Regions from separate parts of the Homo sapiens genome. Here region 2 is linked to region 1. The links come from fine-mapping of genetic effects on gene expression. A gene starts in region 1. The other region holds a variant in brackets. All regions are shown on one strand. Distances are between the middles of the regions.

Region 1 (4,385 bases):
GACTGCTTGAGCCCAGGAGGTCATGGCTGCAGTGAGCTGTGATTGCACCACTGCACTCCAGCCTGGGTGATGGGGCAGGACCCTGTCTCAAAATACAAGCAAACAAACACAAAACTAAGTGGCTAGAACAGCATGTGTTATCTCAGTTTCTGTGGGTGAGGAATTCAGATGCAGTTCATATGGGTCTTCTGTTTTCAGGGTCTTTGTTTTTCTTTCTTTCTTCTTCTTCTTCTTCTTTTTTTTTCTTTTGAGACAGGGTCTCACTCTGTTGCCCAGGCTGGAGTGTAATGGTAATGATTTCAGCTCGCTGTCACCTCTGCCTCCTGGGTCCAAGTGATTCTGATGCCTCAGCCTCCTTAGTAGCTGGGACTACAGGTGCCCGCCACCATGCCTGGCTAATTTTGGTATTTTTAGTAGAGATGGGGTTTTGCCGTGTTGGCCAGGCTAGTCTCAAACTCCTGACTTTAAGTGACCTGCCTACCTCGGCCTTCCAAAGTGCTGGGATTATAGGCATGAGCTACCACATGCAGCCCTGTTTTAGGGTGTTTCAAAGGCTGCAATTGAAGTGAAGCAGTCATCCAAAGGCTCAACTGGGGCAGGACCCTCTTCCATGATCACGTTCATGGCTGTTGGTAGCATTTGGTTCCTTATGGACGCTTGTGCTGAGGGTCTCATTGCCTTGCTGACTGTTGGCTGGAGGACACCCTCAGTTCCTTTCCCTCTGGATCTCTCCAGCATCTTAGCTTGCTTTGTCAAGACACGTAGGCTGAGAAGGCGAGAGACAGGCTCTGCTGGCAAAACAGAAGTCACAATCTCTCATAGCCTAATCGCAGAATGACATCCCATTCATTTGCCATTTTCTATTTGTTAGAATCAAGTCATCAGGCCAAGCGCAGTGGCTCATGCCTGTAATCCCAGCACTTTGGGAGGCCAAGGTAAGAGGATCACCTGAGGTCAGGAGTTCAAGACCAGCCTGGCCAACATGGTGAAACCCCGTCTCTACTAAAAACACAAAAATTAGCCGGCATAGTGGCACACGCCTATAATCCCAGCTACTCGGGAGGCTGAGGCAGGAGAATCGCTTGAACACGGGAGTCGGAAGTTGCAGTGAGCCAAGATCGCGCCATTGCACTCCAGCCTGAGTGACAAGAGCGAGACTCTGTCTCAAAAAAAACCTTTTTTTTTTTTTTAGAGATGGGGTCTCACTATGCTGCCCAGGCTGGCCTTGAACTCCTGGACTCAAGCGATCCTCCCGCCTCGGTCTCTTAAAGTGCTGAGATTACAAGTGTGAGCCACTGCGCCCTGCCAAGATTTGGTTTTTAACTTACGCGTTACCTCCTATACTTATTTTTTCATGGTTTGAACATGTAACATCTACTTTCTTAGCAATTTTGCAGTATGCAATGCATTGTTACGAGCTGTAGCCACCATGATGTACAGTCGATCTCTTGGACTTACTCCTCCTGCCTATCAACAGAGATTTGTTGAAGGGATGAATCTGCTTCTTCAGCCGTCGGTAAGGGGATCAGCAGCGAGGACGCTGAGAGAGGAGCCGCCTCCGTTGGAAATCCCTTCCCATCCACCTCCAAGCCTCTTTCCAAGCGGGATTCAGCACCAGGCGCCCCTGGACAGCTCTGGAAACCCAACCCTGCCGGAACCGTTCCTCGCCAATCCGGGTTTCCCGCCGGGGCCGCTTGGTGGCTGCGCCCGCCGCTCAGCGGGAGGAAACCCCTTTCCTGTGCCGGTAGGAGAGGTGGAGTCGCATATGAGTGGCAGGTTTCGCAGCCAATAGTATGGAAAGTTCTGCCAGCGGGTCTCGGGGAGGCCAATGGGCAGGGGCGTGGGCGGGGCGTGGACCAGCCGCGCCGAGCGGGGCCTCTCCGGGCCGCGTCTGTGGGGTCGAGACTGCGCGGCCGTTGGGCGTGCAGCGGCGCCAGTCGGCGGACGAGGGGCCCCCGGGAGGTAGGTGCGGGCAGAGAGAGGACCTGGGGCGGCGGGGCGGGGCGGCGCTGAGCGGCCGGGGGTCTGTTGGACTCTACCCGCACGTTAGCCGAGGCCCGTCTCCGGTGCCCGGTAGCGCGAGGCACACAGAAGGCGCTCAATAAGTGCTGATTGAATGAATGAGCCCGTGCCCTCCTCATCCCGGCCCGAGCAGCCTCCGGTTTGAGAGCGTGCAGGCCACCCTCACCTTCACTGTACAGACTGAGGTATCCAGATGCCGGACAGGTCTTTATTGGGCGCCTACTGTGTGCCTGGGTGGCTCTGCGCTGGGTGCAGCTGGCCCTGAGCAAGACAGACAGCCTGGTCCCGCCCAGCTCACCGCCGGGGGGGAGGGACGACTTTAAATGACTTAAAATAATGTAATTCCTAGCTCCCTCTGTAGCACAAAATAAAAGAAAATAACACCAGGGAAGGGGGCGGGGAGAGCTCTGAGTGGAGACATCTGAGCAGTGACCCGAAGACCTGAATGCAGTGAGGTAGCGGGGCCATGAGGCGCTTGGGGCTGATGGTGGGGGAGAAAACCCAGTTGGGGAAAACTCAAGGACAGGGGAGGAGCTGAGATTCCTCCTAAGAACGGTGACATTTTGGGGTCCAGGGTGAAACCGACTTCACTTTGGCCCATTGCATCAGGTAAAATGCGGCCCTTATCAGTGGCCACACGCTTCCCCTCGTCCATGTGTTCAGCCAGCGGTTTTTGAGTATCTGTTCTGCAGCAGGCCTTCCGGCGGGTACAGGGATATGGTTTAGGGCAGGAGTCAGCCAGGGGCAGAGAGGGAGGCCCTTTTTTTTTTTTTTTTTTTTTTTTTGAGACGGAGTCTTGCTCTGCAGCCCAGGCTGGAGTACAATGGCGCGATCTCGGCTCACTGCAAGCTCCACCTCCTGGGTTGAAGCAATTCTCCTGCCTCAGCCTCCCGAGTAACTGGGATTACAGGCACGTACCACCATGCCCAGCTAATTTTTTTTTTTTTTGAGACAGAGTCTTACTCTGTCACCCAGGCTGGAGTGCAATGGCTTGATCTTGGCTCACTGCAACCTCCACCTCCTGGGTTCAAGTGATTCTCCTGCCTCAGCCTCCCAAGTAGCTGGGATTACAGGTGCCCACTACCACACCCAGCTAATTTTTGTATTTTTAGTAGAGACAGTGTTTCACTGTGTTGGCCAGGCTGGTCTTGAACTCTCGACCTCAGGTGCTGGTCTCGAACTCTCGACCTCAGGTGATCTGCCCACCTCAGCCTCCCAAAGTGCTGAGATTACAGGTGTGAGCCACCACTCCCAACCGAGGGAGGCCCTTTTGAGGGGTCCTGGATGCAGAGAAGCAAGAAAGAAGAAGGAGGCCTCGCTGGAAGGTCAGGGGAAAGAGAGCAGTGTTCCAGGTGGAGAGAGGAGAACCCATGCAGAGGTCCTGAGGCACGAGCAAGCTTGGCACAGAAAGGACCAGTGAGGGCCGAGGCGAGGCAGGAGCTTGTCATGCAGAGCTTCAGCCTCAGGGTACAGAGTTTAGACTTTATTTCGGGGCATGGGGAAGCCATGGACCACCACCATCCAATAGCATGTTCTGCAGTGATGAGAGTGTTCCCTTTGCTGTCAAATACGGTAACCACAGAAGTCAAGTAGGCTTGTGTGACTACTGAGCGCTTGAAATATGGCCAGGGAGACTGAGGAGCGGAATTTTGTATTTTATTTAGTTTTTTTTTTTTTTTTTTTTTGAGATGGAGTTTTGCTCTTGTTGCCCAGCCTGGAGTGCGGTGGTGCCATCTTGGCTCACTGCAACCTCTGCCTCCTGGGTTCAAGCGATTCTCTTGCCTCAGCCTCCAGAGTAGCTGGGATTACAGGTGCCTGCCACCACGGCCGGCTAATTTTTGTATTTTTGGTAGAGACGGCGTTTCACCATGTTGTCCAGGCTGGTCTCGAATTCCTGACCTCAGGTGATCCACCCACCTCGGCCTCCCAAAGTTCTGGGATTGCAGGTGTGAGCCACTACACCCAGCCTGGATTTTTTTTAATTTTGATGAACTTTTTTCTTTTTTTGAGACAGTGTATTAGTCAGGGTTCTCTAGAGGGACAGAACTAATGGAATAGTTATATATATAAAGGGAAGTTTATTAAGTATTAATTGCACACGATTACAGGGTCTCACAATACATTGTCTGCAGATTGAGGAGCAAAGAGAGCCAGTCCGAGTTCCAAAACTGAAGAACTGGCCAGGTGCAGTGGCTCACGCCTATAATCCTAGCACTTTGGGAGGCCGAGGCAGGCGGATCACGAGGTCAGGAGTTCGAGACCAGCCTGGCCAACATGATGAAACCTCGTCTCTACTACAAATACAAAAAAAATTAGCTGGGAGTGGTGGCGCGTGTCTGTAATCCCAGCTACTAGGCAGGAGA
Region 2 (4,385 bases), 29 kb after region 1:
ACTTTGGGAGGCCGAGAAGGGCATATTACCTGAGACCAGAAGTTTGAGACCAGCCTGGCTCACATGGCAAAACCCTGTCTCTACTAAAAATACAAAAAATTAGCTGGGCGTGGTGGCGGGAGTCTGTAATCCCAACTACTAGGGAGGCTGAGGCAGGAGGATCACTTGAACCCGGGAGGCGGAGCTTGCAGTGAGCTGAGATCGTGCCACTACACTCCAGCCTGGGTGACGAGAATGAAACTCTGTCCAACCCCCCGCCGCCCCACAAAAAGAAAAGAAATACCTGATACAGGTAAATGATAGAGAAAAGAGGTTTAATTGGCTCATAGTTCCACAGCCTGTGCAGGAAGCATGGCAGCAGCTGCTTCTGGGAGGCCTCAGGAAACTTACGGTCATGGGGGAAGGCAGAGGGGAGCAGGCAGGTCACTCGGCCGGAGCAGGAGCACAGGGGAGGAGGTGCCATACCGGATCTTGTGAGAACTCTATTATGAGACAGGACTGAGGGGTGGATCCATTCATGAGGATCCACCGTCATGATCCAGTCGCCTCCCATCAGGCACTACCTCCAACACGGGACTACAATTCAACATGAGATTTGGGTGGGGACAGAGAGCCAAACCATGTCAGGGGACCTTCCCTGCTTGTCCCATCTGCCAGCCCAGCCCCCACCCCTCACCCCTAACCCAGAGCAGGCTGGGGCAGGGATCTGACCTGAAGAGGTAAGGCGTTGTTCAGGACCAGACTGGAAGGAAGGAAGAGCTGAGACATCATTCATTCACGTATTCATTGGTTCATTCATTCATTCATTCATCCAGTATGTAAGAGGCACCACTCTATGCCTGGTCCTGCCCTGATGCTGGGGACACAGCAGTGACAGACACCAGCCCCAGAGCCCCCTGCCTGCTCAGAGAGCATAACCCACTGGGGACGATGATTCCCTATGAAGAAGTGGATCAAATCATCGCAGACACATGCTCCCTACGCAGAAGATAAACCTGCATCACAAAAGTGACGTGGCTGGGAGTCCCAGGCCTTCTGAGGTCTGACTCAGAAGCTGACGTGTTTGCTGATGTGGGAAGCGGGGGAGAGGCCAGCTCCAAGGGGACCTGGGACGGAGCACTGGACAGGGGGACCAGCAAAGGTGTCAAAGCAGGAACAGGTGAGGCCTGGCTGGGAGGAGTGGAGGGAGGAGAGGGAAGGTGGCCAGTGAAGTTGAAGGTCGCCAGCAGGGGTCAAACAGTGCCTGGTGGGCTGTGGGAAGAGTTTGGACTTTCACGAGAAGGATGCCAGGGGGTTACGGGAACATTTCAGCATTTCCCTCAAGAGACCTCGAGGGCCCCGCTGTACCGTGTACTTACCGCAGCTGGCTGAGGAGGTCGGACAGGCACTAAGAGCCCTATTTTACAAAGGCAGGAACCCACAGGACCTCAGCTTCCCTATCTGTGTAATGTGAATGTATGGTTGGAGTCTGGCTTGCCAGGATCCCAGGAGGCGGGAGAGGGCCGTGGTTAGTGATATGTCCTCCAGGTCAGATGTGAAGATGGTGGGATCCCAGCTGCAGCTGCAGGGAGCATAGCACCTGCCTGGGACCCCCTCCTCTATTTCTCCAAGTGACCATGGGTTTTGAGACACCCTCTTTTAAAAATTATTTTTTTTTTGAGACGGAGTCTTGCTCTGTCGCCCAGGCTGGAGTGCAGTGGTGTGATCTCGGCTTCAAACAATTCTCCTGCCCCAGCCTCCCGAGTAGCTGGGATTACAGACGCCCACAACCATGCCCGGCTAATTTTTGTGGTTTTAATAGAGATGGGGTTTCACCATGTTGGCCAGGCTGGTCTCAAACTTCTGACCTCAGGTGATCCACCTGCCTTGGCCTCCCAAAGCGCTGGGATTACAGGCATGAGACACCGTGCCTGGCCTTCATTGCAATTTTTAAAACGTTTTATTTATTAATAATTATTGATTCACGGGAAGGTACAAGGAGGTCTGATGCACCCTGCACCCAGCCCCCCAGCTATGTTTACATCTTGCATAACTGCAGTATAACCTCAAAACCAGCACAGTGGAAGGATGCAAGCTTCACTGGATTTGCATGCACTCATCTGAGTGTGTGAGTGTGTGTGTGGTTTATGCAGTTTTATCACACGCATAACTTCCTCTAAACACCGTCACGAGATACTTTTTTTTTTTTTTTTTGGTCAGGGTCTTGCTCCGTCGCCCAGGCTGGAATGGTGCAGTGGTGT[G/A]AACACAGCTCACTGCAGCCTCAATCTCTTGGGCTCAAGTGATCCTCCCACCTCAGCGCCCCCCGAGTAACTGAGTAGCTGGGACTACAGACACATGCACGTCACCACATGTGGCTAATTTTCTTTCTTTCTTTTTTTTTTGAGACGGGGTCTGGCTCTGTCGCCCAGGCTGGAGTGCAGTGGTGCGATCTCGGCTCACTGCAAGCTCCGCCTCCCAAGTTCACGCCATTCTCCTGCCTCAGCCTCCCGAGTAGCTGGGACTACAGGCGCCCGCCACCACGCCCGGCTAATTTTTTGTATTTTTAGTAGAGACGGGTTTCACCGTGTTAGCCAGGATGGTCTCAATCTCCTGACCTCGTGATCCGCCCACCTCGGCCTCCCAAAGTGCTGGGATTGCAGGAGTGAGCCAGCACGCCCGGCTAATTTTCTTATATATATATTTGTAGATATGGTGGGGGGGTCTTGCCATGTTGCCCAGAATGGTCTCGAACTCCTGGGCTCAACGGATCTTCCTGCTTCGGCCTCCCAAAGTGCTGGGATGACAGGTGTAAGCCACTGCACAAACAAGACACTTAAGCGACACCAAAGACTCCCTCGTGATATCCCTCCTAGCCACGCTAGCCACCCTCACTAATGCAATATGTATGTATTTGAGAGTCTTGCTCTGTTGCCCAAGCTGGAGTGCAGTGGCATGATCTCTGCTCACTGCAACCTCTACCTGCCAGGTTCAAGCAATTCTCCTGCCTCAGCCTCCCGAGTAGCCGGGATTATAGGCATGCACCACCACGGCCCAGCTAATTTTTATTTTTTGTATTATTAGTAGAGATGGGGGTCTCACTATGTTGGCCAGTCTGGTCTTGAACTCCTAGCCTCAAGCAATCCTCCCATCTTGGCCTTTCAAAGTGCTAGGATTACAGGCATGAGCCACTGCACCTGGTCCTAATGCAATATTTTTTTAAAAATTGACATGAGTACAAAAAATCTGCATTGAACAAAATTTTAAAGTCCCAAATAAAGACAGCATCCAACCTTCCCCTGAGAGCCTCAGGCAAAAGGAAAAATGTGTGCATGTGTACATATACCAAATATTTAAGCATCTTTACATATCTTTCTATTTTTTTGAGACTGTCTCAATTTGTTGTCCAGGCTGGAGTGCAGTGGTGCAGTCTCGGCTCACTGCAACCTCCTCCTTTCCAGTTCAAGCGATTCTCCTGCCTCATCCTCCAGAGTAGCTGGGACTACAGGTGTGTGCCACTGTGCCCATCTAATTTTCTTTTTTCTTTTCTTTTCTTTTTGTTTTTTTTGAGATGGAGTCTTGCTGTGTTGCCAGGCTGGAGTGCAGTGGCACGTCTCGGCTCACTGCAACCTCCGCCTCCCGGGTTCAAGCGATTCTCCTGCCTCAGCCTCCTGAGTAGCTGGGACTACAGGTGCGTGCCACCACACCCAGCTAATTTTTGTATTTTTAGTAGAGATGGGGTTTCACCATGTTGGCAAGGCTGGTCTCGATCTCTTGATCTCGTGATCCACCTGCCTTGGCCTCCCAAAGTGCTGGGATTACCGGCGTGAGCCACCGCGCCCGGCCCAGCACCTTTATATATCTGTATGCATTTTTAGTGGTTGATTTTTTCCAGAAGTAGATTTTGAAAATATGACTGATGATTTAGTAGGATTTGCTTCTACTAAAACTAGGACAGTAAAATTATAATAAAGTCTATTTGGACATAAAGAAACTTAATAATAACATTGTAAAAAGACACATGACATTGTGAGTTTGAATACAACATCTTTTCAATCCTTGAATACTTTCAACTGCTTTAGTGTTCTGGAAAAAAAGTAACCATTAAAAAATACAGGCTCATGCCTGTAATCCCAGCACTTTGGGAGGCTAAGGCAGGAGGATCACTTGAGCCCAGGAGTTCAAAACCAGCCTGGGCAAACTGGTAAGACCCTATCTCAAAAGAAAACATTAAAAAATATATAACTCTCTGGAAGAATATTTGGCAGTTTCTTCAAGAACAAATCATGCAGCTACCATATGACATAGCGATTGTGGTCCTGGTCATTTATCTCAGAGAAATGATTTATGTTCATACACAAACCCTTACAGGAATGTTAACGGCAGCTTTATTAGTAAGAGCCAAACAC

Direction of the effects. Positions count from the first base shown, and alleles are read on the strand shown. Sizes are in standard deviations (SD) of each study's normalised expression.
For the expression in monocytes after Pam3CSK4 of the gene that starts at base 1,890 in region 1, allele G in region 2 goes with a lower level than allele A (moderate effect, 0.70 SD a copy in Quach 2016).

What was found. PIP is the estimated chance that this variant, and not a neighbour inherited with it, causes the effect. A credible set is the group of variants that fine-mapping cannot tell apart.
Region 2: its variant is the best candidate, but not a certain one, in a credible set for the expression of SLC39A3 in monocytes after Pam3CSK4 (Quach 2016, PIP 0.52).

Annotation. Positions count from the first base shown.
Region 1 is chr19:2,737,522-2,741,906 of GRCh38, reverse strand. It overlaps SLC39A3 (solute carrier family 39 member 3), which reads left to right and starts at 1,890. Exons shown (of 3, transcript NM_144564.5): 1 at 1,890-1,962. RefSeq lists enhancers at 1,609-1,658, 2,359-2,408 and silencers at 1,719-2,118, 2,527-2,794.
Region 2 is chr19:2,708,344-2,712,728 of GRCh38, reverse strand. No RefSeq gene overlaps it. Among named protein-coding and RNA genes, the nearest start is that of GNG7, 7.8 kb to the right of the region's middle. RefSeq lists an enhancer at 2,159-2,238. The variant G/A (reference allele first, on the strand shown) is at 2,241.